Regions from separate parts of the Homo sapiens genome. Here region 1 is linked to region 2. Evidence: fine-mapped expression QTL. Tissue or cell type: whole blood. Region 2 holds a variant in brackets; the other region holds the start of a gene. All regions are shown on one strand. Distances are between the middles of the regions. Region 1 holds the start of PADI2 (peptidyl arginine deiminase 2). Region 2 overlaps PADI2 (peptidyl arginine deiminase 2).

The links.
Region 1: PADI2 starts here. The variant in region 2 is fine-mapped to the expression of PADI2 in whole blood (INTERVAL, PIP above 0.99).

What each region holds. Positions count from the first base shown.
Region 1 is chr1:17,116,178-17,121,542 of GRCh38, forward strand. PADI2 (peptidyl arginine deiminase 2) reads right to left here and starts at 3,274. Exons shown (of 16, transcript NM_007365.3): 1 at 3,103-3,274. The coding sequence starts at 3,194. RefSeq lists a silencer at 3,084-3,293 and an enhancer at 3,865-4,399.
Region 2 is chr1:17,095,394-17,100,758 of GRCh38, forward strand. It overlaps PADI2 (peptidyl arginine deiminase 2), which reads right to left. Exons shown (of 16, transcript NM_007365.3): 4 at 516-577. Among named protein-coding and RNA genes, the nearest start is that of PADI2, 21 kb to the right of the region's middle. The variant C/T (reference allele first, on the strand shown) is at 2,957.

The sequences.
Region 1 (5,365 bases), 21 kb after region 2:
TGGATGGAAGCTGGTAGGGCAGTGCCTGCCAGGACCACAAGGTCTATTGAGGAATGAGGCTGGGGAGGCCCCTGCTATGTGTCTGGAGGGGATCCTGTGTGCCAGCATCACAGGAAAGGGAGTCCAGAGCCCTTGGGAAAGGGAGTGGGTGCTGAGGCCGTTTCGCTCACCTTTGCGACTCAGAAGGAGTGAGGGTCAGGATGCCACTCCGTAATTAACTGGGCCCAGCACCCCCGGGCCTTGTTCCTTGGGGTCTACTTGGAGGCTCTGGGGGCATCACTTGGGGTCTTGAGCCAGGACCTGTGTCCGGGCAGCAAAGGACTCAGGGAAGAGTGGAGGGCCAAATGGGAGTTGGTGAAGTCTCTGGGGACAGTGGGCTCGTGGCCAGGGTGGAAGAGACACAGGCTGAGAGGGCCGTCCAGTTCAACCCGCTGGTTTTAGGGTCACATAGGACAGAGTGGGGTATAAGAGCATGAGTTCTGAGTCAAACAGACCTGGACCTGAGTCCTGTGTGACTCTGGACAAATGGCTTCATCTCTCTGAGCCTTACCTTCCTCATCTGTAAAATGGGATGATCAATGAACCCTCCAGGGTCTATGGTGAGGAAGAAAGGAGGTGGTGGGTTCAGTTCCTAAGTGCCCACTAATACCTCCTCCTGTTATCAATACTGGCAGTTGCTCTCATTACTACAGGTAACTCGAGTCACAATAGCAGTAACAACTCAAGCTCCTTAGTCCTGGAAGAGGCTTCCTTCCACTGGACCAGTGAGTCTCAGCTGGCTGTGATTTTGCCCCCTGCCAGGGGACTGCTGGCACTGTCTGGCAACATTTTTGGTTGTCACAATTTGGGGGTTGCTACTGGCATCTAGGGGACAGAGGTCAGGGATGCCACTAAACATCCCGCTACAACAAAGAAATATCGAGCCCAAAATGCAATAGTGCGAGATTGAGAAACTCTGCACTAGACCTGTTCTGTCCCGGTGTCACTGGCTCACGGTGGCCAGTGAGCACCTGAGATGCACTCAATCTACGCTGAGATGTGCTGAAGTGTAAAATGTGCACTGGATTACAAAGACTTAGCATGAAAAAAGGAAGGTAAACCATTTCCTTAATAATTTTTATATTGATTGCATGTTGAAATGATAATATTCTAAAATATTGGGTTAAACAAAATATATTATTAAAATTATGCCTGTTGTTTTAACTTTAAAAAAGTGTGGACTACTAGAAGATTTAAAATGCAATTGTGGTTTTGTTGTGGTTCAAACTGGACTTTTCTGGACAGTACTGGTCTAGAGCGCACTGCCCCTCTCTGTGGTGGTGGAGAACCTTAAGTGCCGGTGGGGGTTAGGGTCTTTGTGGTCGTTGAGACAGGACAAGGGGAATCGTCACACTGCTGCCCCCTGCTAGAGGGAGGCTGAGTCCATATCTGCCCCACTCTGTGCCCCTACCCCAGCTGGGCCTCTCTTTGCCAGGATAGAGCGATAGCAGGGCGCCTGAGCAGGAACCCTCCTTTGCTCCCCACCCCCGACTGGGAGGATCATGCCAGCTTTTCAGGCGGCACCAACCATGCCCCAGCAAATAAACAGGTGGGTATGGTGACAGCTGAGGCTTAGAGACCTGAGCACTCTGGCTCCGCGCCCACTCCCTAGCGGTGCCCAGTTCAGGGCTGGGGGTGGGGAAGGCAGGGGAGCTCTTGCACCCCACCAGAGCCTGGACCACCCTCCACTGCTGTGTTCTTGTTCTCAGAGACCACCCAGTCCACCTCTGAGGTTTACATGGGGGACAACTGAAGCCCAGGCCCAGGGGAAGGCAGAGGTTGAGGCCAGGGACAGAGGCATGGAGTGGGTCCCTAGTCCTGGGGCTTGTTGGTATCAGCGTGGCCAGTGCCTCTGCAGCGGTGGCAGGAGACTGGTTGGGCAGGTGGGAGGGCTGCCAGGGCTGTGTGGGGAGACACATGATGGGTTGGTGGGGGCCTGGGAGAGGCAGGGTGCTCCAGGTGTCAGGATGATTTGAGAGCCATAAACCACGATGGTGCCTCCGTGTGAGTTCAGCTTGAGGCAGAGAGGATAGGGGACTCATCCGGTGTCAGCACAGGGTCCCACCTCAGAGTCCTGCATGCTCCCTGCCCCCAGCACTGACCCCTCCAACCCTAGCAATGGGGAGGTTTTAAATGCTTGGAATAGAGGGGGCAGATCAAACCCCAGCATAACCCCACCCTTTCATTCACACCAGCCACACCTTTCCAAGGCCCCGTCCCATTACTCAGGGAGACAGATCATTGGACTTGGCTGCTTTCTGGGATTGCGGGGGGAGTGGTAGGGCCCTACCCTACCTTCAGCTGTCTCGGACATCCCGCACTCTACCAAGTTCTTGGACAGAGAGAAGGGGAGGGAGCAGAACTCTGAATCAGGATCCTTTTCCAACAAAGTACCCCGCTATACACCCCAAGTCCCCGTCGTCAGCTGGGTAGAATATTGTCCCTCTGTGGTCTCAGAATGAAGTCAGGGGAAGGTATCTGGGGACACGGAGCTCAGGGCCAGTGCCTGGGGACAAGCAACCACCAGCAGCCCCCACAGGGCGAAATCGGAGCCTGAGTAACCTCCAGGGCCGGATTCAGCCTCAGGGCAGCTCCCTTCGGGTCCTGCCCCAGTCCCCGGCAAGTCTCCGCGGAAGCTCCGCTGAACTGGGAGTGGGAAGCAGGAGAGGGGCTGGGTTGAGGTGGGTCCGAGGGGAAGTGAGGTGCGGAGGGGAAGTGAAAGGGGAGAGGACGGCAGGGAAGCTGAAGGGGTGTGAGGTCCCCCGGGAGGAGAACTGGAGAGGGCCAGACGGAGGGTTACGGGTGAAAGGGAGGGTCTGTGAGGGAGCTGGGGCTGAGGCTGTGTTAGGGGGTCTGGGAGAGTCTCAGGGTTTCTGGAAGGTGGACACAAGGTTCGGGGGTTGTCAGGTTTCTGGATGAGATTCTTAGGATTTCTGGGCTCGGGGGCTCGGGATGAGGGACAACTCGGGCTGGACAAAGGCTGTCCACGTCCCCGAGTCTGAGCGCGTCTCAGGATTTCTGGGCTCGAGATCTCGGCCCGGGCATCACGGTGGGCCGGCTCACCTGTAGACATCGGTCCAGAGGTAGGTGCCCAGCACGTACACCGCCTCCACGCGGCTCCCGTACTGCAGCCGCACGGTCCGCTCGCGCAGCATCCTCCCCGCCGCAGTGCCCGCGCTCGCTGGTCCGGGGCGGCCGGGAGCACCTGCAGCAGGTGCGCCTTCTCCAGCAGCCTGCGCCCCACGGCCCCGCGCGCAGCCTTATCCAGCGGCCGGTGGGCGGGGCGGCCCGCCCCAGTCCTCTCGCAGTGGGCTGCGGGCCTGTCCGTCAAGCGTGGTCCCGCCCCTAACTCGTCCCGCCCCGCTGAGGTCGTGGCGAAGTCATCAGGGACCAGTTTTGTGCTTTCCATGGTTGGATTGTCATTCTTTCATTCGACAAACCTTCGGTGGGCGCCCAGGTGTTGGAGGGCCCTAGCTCCCCTCCGGACGCCCCAGCCCAGTGGGGCTGAAAATGCAAATGTGGGAACACAAAGAGGGTGCCCTAACCCAGCCTGGGGGCCAGGAAGCCTTCCCAGAGAAGACGATCCTGGAACCTTCTTAAAGGAGGCGTTTGCAAATTAAAGGCGAGGAGAGGGAGCTGCCTGTGCAAAGCCGGGTGCAGCCCGGTACCCCCATCCCCCAACAGTCAGATGAACCTCACCATAGAGAAAACGGGAAGCGGTGGGGATGGGGAACCCGGCAGCTGAGGGAGACCAGGACGCCAAGCCAAGGCATTGGAGGGTGGGAGATGGGAGCCTGGAGTGGTTGTCTCCGCGAGCCGTGGTCGGGTGTGCTCGTGAAATGGGTCATTCTGGGCTGGGGAGGGGCAAGGAAGCCCCTGGCTGTGGCCAGAGCTGGAGAGGTGGGGACTGACCCGGCCACTGCTTAGGGACTGGGATTTTGGTGGCACCTGGTGACTGATAGGATGTGTGGGTGGAGGGAGAGGAGAGGGGTAAGGATTAGGGCCCCGGTTCTGGCCTGGGCCACCAAGGGAAGGGGGGTGCCACCCAGAGGTCATCGTGTGTCTCACAGAGGCTGAGATGTAGGATGACAATCAGTGTGGGCCTCGGCCAGCCCCTCCCATGTCCCAGCCCTTCCCCTGGGACCCAGTGGGAGTGCTGTTCAGACACATACATCAGCCCTGTGTGAGGAAGTGGTCTTTGGTAGGTGAGGACAGAAACTGAGGGGGGGTGGGCAGAGGCCGTGGGAGGGAAGGAGTGGGGCGGAGGGGATGTGTGTTTGGGAAGGAGTTAGAGCTGATGGAAGATGGAGCTCCAGGAACGGGTGCCCCCAGACAAGAGGGGTGAGGCCCACAAGTGCCCAGTGCTGATATACCCAGCCCTTGGACTCCAACCTTCTCCCTGAGGCGGCCCAAATTAGGAGGTGGTGAAGAGCCCAGCTGCTTCTGAGTGGCAGGGATTTGGGAGGAATGTGAGTGGGGAAGAGGGAAGGCCCGAGTTTTAGCCAGGAGGTCATTTGTCCCCCAAAGGCACAGCTCACAGACCCAGGGAGAGGCCAGTAACTGTTTTTTTTTTTTTTTTTTGAGACAGAGTTTTCCTCTTGTTACCCAGGCTGGAGTACAATGGCGCCATCTCAGCTCATTGCAACCTCCGCCTCCCAGGTTTAATTGATTCTCCTGCCTCAGCCTCCCAAGTAGCTGGGATTACAGGCAGGCACCACCACACCCAGCTAATTTTGTATTTTTAGTAGAGACGGGGTTTCTCCATGTTGGCCAGGCTGGTTTTGAACTCCTGATCTCAGGTGATCTACCTGCCTCGGCCTCCCAAAGTGCTAGGATTACAGGCGTGAGCCACAGCGCCCGGCCGAGGCCAGTAACTTCTGATGAACTCCAGGCACCCGGCTGAGCACATCCTCCAATCAGGAGGAATCTCTCGGGTGGCCACCTGCCAAACTGGGACAAAACTTGTGTAGCTTGGAGAGACTTCGAGGCGCCCCCAGAGGTGAGCTCGTGTCTGGGCACCCCTCTGCCACGAGTGACTTTGGAGCCCTTACTGTGTGACAGATAACGGGCACCCACCAGGGTTCTCACCTTCCTGGGGCTCTAACTTTCATTTGACTCATGGGGAGACTGGGGCCAGAGTGGGGGAGGACACTGTACCCCCCACTGACGGAGACCCCGGGCAGCTCATAACAGGACACTGGGCAAGATAGTGATAACATCAGACCGCAATACCCAGGGGAGCTGGAGTAAGAGCGGGCACTTACTGCTTTCTTTCTGTGGGTCAGGCACTGTTCCAAGCGGCTCTTTTCATGTATTAGAGTTAGAT
Region 2 (5,365 bases):
GGGAATGCAAGATAAAAGAAAATAAGTAAATGAACGAGGGAACAAATGAATGAATGGTGAATGAATGCAAGAATAAATAGAAAGAGGAGAGGGGCCGTGCATGCACCAGCAGAGATAATACCACGCCTGGAACTGAGAATGATGAATGCGACCCTCTGTCCTGAGGGTCTGTCTCCCCCACCTCCCTAGTCTTAAAAGAACAGGCAAAATAATAAGAGCAAATGCCTTCACAGTGCTTCCTCTGTAGCGGGCACATTTATCCTTCCCAGCAGTTCCATGAATTGGGCGTCCCCATCATGGGATGGAGAAACTGAGACTCAGGAGCCTGCTCTGTTGCCGTCTCTAGGAGATGCCTGAGCTCCTCTGTGGGTTCCATCATTGGTATGCTGTGTGTCTGGGAGCCTGTCTTGGGCTTTAGTCTCCTGAGCTGTGAAATGGGAATTGCCTGCGGGATCTGGGGCTGTGCCCTCGGAAGCCCTGGGTTCAGGGTGGTGCCTGCCCTGAAAGCTAGGTACCTTCTTTGGGTTGTTCTTCTCCACCACACCATCCCGGTCTGCGTCCACATCCAGGGAGATCTCTGGGGAGAAGAGACATGGGTGAGTTGCTGAGCCTGCCAGGCAGGGCAGGGCAGGGGCAAGAGGAAGACCTGTGGGATTTGGGTGCGTCTCAGCCATTCATTTGGTCACGGGAAAGAGAGGACCTCGCTGAAGTCATCTTATGCAACCCCCTGCCTCAACATCCCACTACCCACTGGAGACCGTCAGCAGACACCGTGTGGACCTCGTAGCTTACGGCTGCAAGAGCTGCCATCGGGGAGGTCTGGGACCTCCTACCACTTCATTGTTCTGGCTGGGGGTTGGGGAATGATCCTCGCTGCACAGATCTGGATGCCTCAGTTCAGAGGTGAAGTCGCATGCCCAAGATCACATAGGGACGCTAGCAGAACTGGGGTACACAGTGCGGTTGGTCTGATTCATAGTTCATATTCTGAAAACTTAACAGGGATAGCATTCCCAAACTGCCTTTCTCAGTCTACCCGGGCATGCGCATAGGTGTGCACATGTGCACCTGGGTGTGCGTGTCTCTTTCTCTCCCAGAACTTCCAGTGGGCTAGATCCCACCTTCAAGGACTGAGGGTTTTACTGTGGGTGGGAAGCTGTCTCTAACCCCTCTTGGTCTGAGGTCACCTGTGAGTCTAGATGGAGGATCCAGGGCCAGGCCCCCACTTATCCCTTCTCTTGGTGAAGGGACCCTCAGCATCCCTAGGCCTGCCATGGAGACAGGCTTTGTGGAGACTGTAGGGAAGTGAAAAGGTTTAGTATCAGACAAGGTGGGGTTTAGACCCTGGTTCTCTGCTTATAAGCTGTGTGACTTTGGGCAGGTTAGAGGACCTCTCTGAGCCCCAGTTTCCTCACTTGTAACATGGGGCCCTTCCTGGTTACAGCAGATGCATTAGCTGCAATGGAAGGCACTACTGACATTTTTGAGCCAAATAACTCTTTGTGTGGGGGCAGCCTGTGCATTGTAGGATGTTTAACAGCACTCCTGGCTTCTACCTACCAGATGCCAGTAACATCCCTCCCAGTCGTGACAGCCAAAAATGTCTCCAGATATTGTCAAATGTCCCTTGGGAGGCGAAATTGCCTTGAGTTGGAGACGGATGAGGTCGAGTAGGGATGTGGTTGGGAAGGTGTTGGGAGTGTCACACACATGACATGTGCCCGTTCCAGGTCCCCAGAGCTGCCCGAGTGGGCTCATCTCACGCTGAGCATGACTTGGACCTGGTGGGCGCTGGGTGGTAATGAATGCATTCCTGGTTAGTCCCCGTGGCAGGCACACCCTCTGCCTGGAGGGCATGGAAAGGAGGGTCCTGGCACACGAAGTGCACTGATGTCACCCTTCTCTGGGCCAACCAAGCCCAGAGTCCAGAGATCACATTCAGGTCCTCCCTTTGCCTATAGCCTGCATACCCTAGACCTGCATGTGACTTTTCCAGTCTAGAAGGAGGCTGCAAGGGCGCCTGGCCCTTGAGAGAGGCAGTCTTGTGTGTCCCAGCCTCTGCAGCTGTGCGGTGAGTTAGGTGCTGTAAGGCATAATTTGTAACCTCCTCCCTCCGATCGCATTCACTCCACATTTCACTGCTGAGGAGCTACTGCTCCGGGAGCTGTACCAGGCAACGGGCAATGGAGGCACAGCACCTGCTCTCAAGGCGTCCACAGTCCCATGAGATGAATAGCATTGCTCTCGTTTCACAGGGCAGCAAACCCAGGTTCAGAGAAGCCACTTGTCAGCAAATCGGGCTGGTAATCTGGGAGGCTGGTGCAGGATAAGGACCCCAGGGGAAAGAAGGGAAGGCGGTACCACCAGGGGCTAAGAGCCTGGGGTGCAGGGGCAGGAATAATACTGGTTTTGGTTCCTGGACCTTTGTGAACTTTCCAGCCGGTCACGTCCACTGAATGCTGCCTTTCAGGGAGCTGGCTTCCTGAAACTCCTCCCTCGGAAGGAGCCGCAGGTCCAGCCTCTTTAGGGAGCCACTCTGTCCTTTTCAAGGTAAAAATTTCTCCCCTGCGGGCATCCTGCTCTGCAGCTGCACAGCGTTTTCCAAGGTGTGTTCTCTCGGCCACTCCAGGGGAGGCGTGACCACCCCCACCCCCTAACGATACAGATGAGGAAACCCAGGCCCGCAGCAGGGAAGTGACCACCGAAGTTCCCAGAACGCAGAGCCAGGCTCTCAGCAGGGCCTCGGACTCCGGCTGCCTGCTCTCTGCTGTTCCCTGCAATGAACCCAGGCTGACCTCCCTGCAAGCTGTTTCCAAAAGCCCAGCCCAAAGTCAAAGACACAAGACTTGCTCCCTTGAAGGTCATTCCCAGAGGAAGTGCCCATTTCCCCACCTTGGTAGCCCTGCGGCCTTCGTCTCTAGGCCGTAAGGTGACATTACATTGGGACTCCTTGTGG[C/T]GAGTCCATTAAAGCAGTGGGGCCGTGGGCTAGGAGAGAAATTATGGTGCAGTCTATACTGCTTCATTTCATTATGAATTCTTAAATGGAAACATTTTATTCATGTAATATTTGGACATAGTACAAACAAAATCAAATAAAATAGTAACACACTGTTTCTAAAGAAAGACAGCAGTTCCTTGTCCAGCCCTTCTTCTCAGCTGCCTAAGGCAACCTCTCTCATGCTTATTGCGATTTCCTGATTTACTGAATTCAGACAGGTTTCGTTACCTTCCTGTTACGAAATGTGGGCATTTCACAGTGTGGCTCCCTTATCGTCCTCCCAGCCTCTCACAGGGCTTCATAACTCCTCTCTGATGACCCATGACCTGTCCCCATAATCCACTGAAATGACCTTCTGGCCCCTTCACCCTCAGAGACCGCCCACCCTGTAGTCATGCCCATGGGACTTCGCCCCTGCAAGGCTTCCCCCAATGTCTGATTTAACTAGATTCCAGTGGGATGCTGCGGGTAGGGGCAGAGAACAGGGCTGGTGTGACCTGCCCAGAGCATTGCCTCTTGGGATGGCTCTGCCTTCCCGAGGGGGAGGAGGGAGAGGAGCTCTGCTTCAGGGCCTCCAGGCTCCAGACGACATTTCCCAGAGGCTCTGGATCCCACCTCAGTTCCCCAGAATAGCCCCAAGGCGTCAGGTGGCTCCTGGGTGTGGGGCAGATTGACGGGAAATGTCCCTAGGATTGGGTTCAAGGCAGTCTGCCCTGAGAATGAAGACACTGAAGCCTCAGCTCTGACCGAGAGGCACAAGCATTTTGGAGGGTCGCCAGAGAGTGGCAGGGTGCCTGGCCTTCTTGCCTTACTAAGCAGCTTGAGATGTTATGGGAAGGAAGGACACCCTCCCCCACAGCCAATCAGGGCAAGTATCCCAGCCTCTGGGGAGAAGGCATAGGATCAAGCCCCTTAGGTTGATGTTAAAATTTTCTGGGGCCCGCATATGTGTACTCCTTCCACTGCCAGGACCTCAAATAGGGTGGGATTCTTCCTCCCTCCCCACACCTCACCTCTTGCTCTCCCCCATCCCTCCCAAAAAATGGAAGTCTTTGCAAATCAACCCTAACCAGGGTCTTGAAGGTCCTTAGGGATTAATTAGCTCAAACCCCTTATTTTATAGTTTGTAAAAAGTGAGTCCTAGTGGGGGTGGTTACTTGTTAAGGTCACACAGCAAGTCCTTGGCGGGATTGGGACAAAGACCCAGAGCCTGATCTGGCCAAAGGAATCATGAATTTGCTCCCAAATCCCAGAAGGAAGAAGGAGAGACCATACATTTCTTTAACTTCACCCAGGCAGAGAGAAAATGCGGCCACCTCAAGAGCAAGAGAGAAAAGCAGGCGGAGCATTGACTAAGCACCCACTCTGTGCCGGGCCCTTCGCACACAACATCCCACTGAATCCTTGTAAACACCATGCAAGGCTGCTCTGTGAAGCGCATTTTATAGATGAGGAAGCCAAGGCTCAGGGGGATGATGTGACTTGTCACAAGCTGGCTGGAGGGGACAGAGAAAGATCTTAGGCTTACTTCTGTCTACCCAGAAGCCAAGGCTCTTTCTGCTCAATGTGGACTCAGGATAGGACCAGGGTGAGAGAGATTCAGATACATTTTTGTGCCCAGGGGACAGTCCCAGCCTCTCAAGATATTGGGGTTGGGGGGGGGCTTGCCTCTGAGGCGCTGCCCCTGAGTGATTGATTACTCAGGATGACGGGCTCAAGGGCTCCTGGGGCAGATGCTCGAGAAAAGAGAAAACCTAGAAGGGACAGAGAGAACAGTGGTCCCCAAGGGAAACCAGATTTTCACCAGGGTCTCTGTTGGAACAGGAAACAGAAGTTCAATGGTGTTAGTTTCTTTTTGCAATTGAATGACTGTCTCTTATTCTGTTTTTTGTTTTGTTTTGTGTTATTTTTGAGACAGAGTCTCATTCTGTCGCCGAGGCTGGAGTGCAGTGGCACTGTGTCAGCTCACTGCAACCTCTGTCTCCTGGTTTCAAGCAATTCTCCTGCCTCAGCCTCCTGAGTAGCTGGGATTACAGGCGTCCACCACCATGCCCGGCTAGTTTTTATATTTTTAGTAGAGACAGGGTTTCACCATGTTGGCCAGGCTGGTCTTGAACTCCTGACCTCAGGTGATCCGCCCACCTCGGCCTCCCAAAGTGCTGGGATTACAGGCGTGAGCCACTGTGCCCGGCCATGACTGTCTTTTATTCTGAGATTATGCCTTGCCTATTTTTTAAGAGTTAAAATGATAGTGATAGTTGATAGCAAATTTTTTTTTTTTTTTTTTTGAGACAAAGTCTCGCTCTGTCGCCCAGGCTGGAGGGCAGTGGCACCATCTTGGCTCACTGCAACCTCCACCTCTTGGGT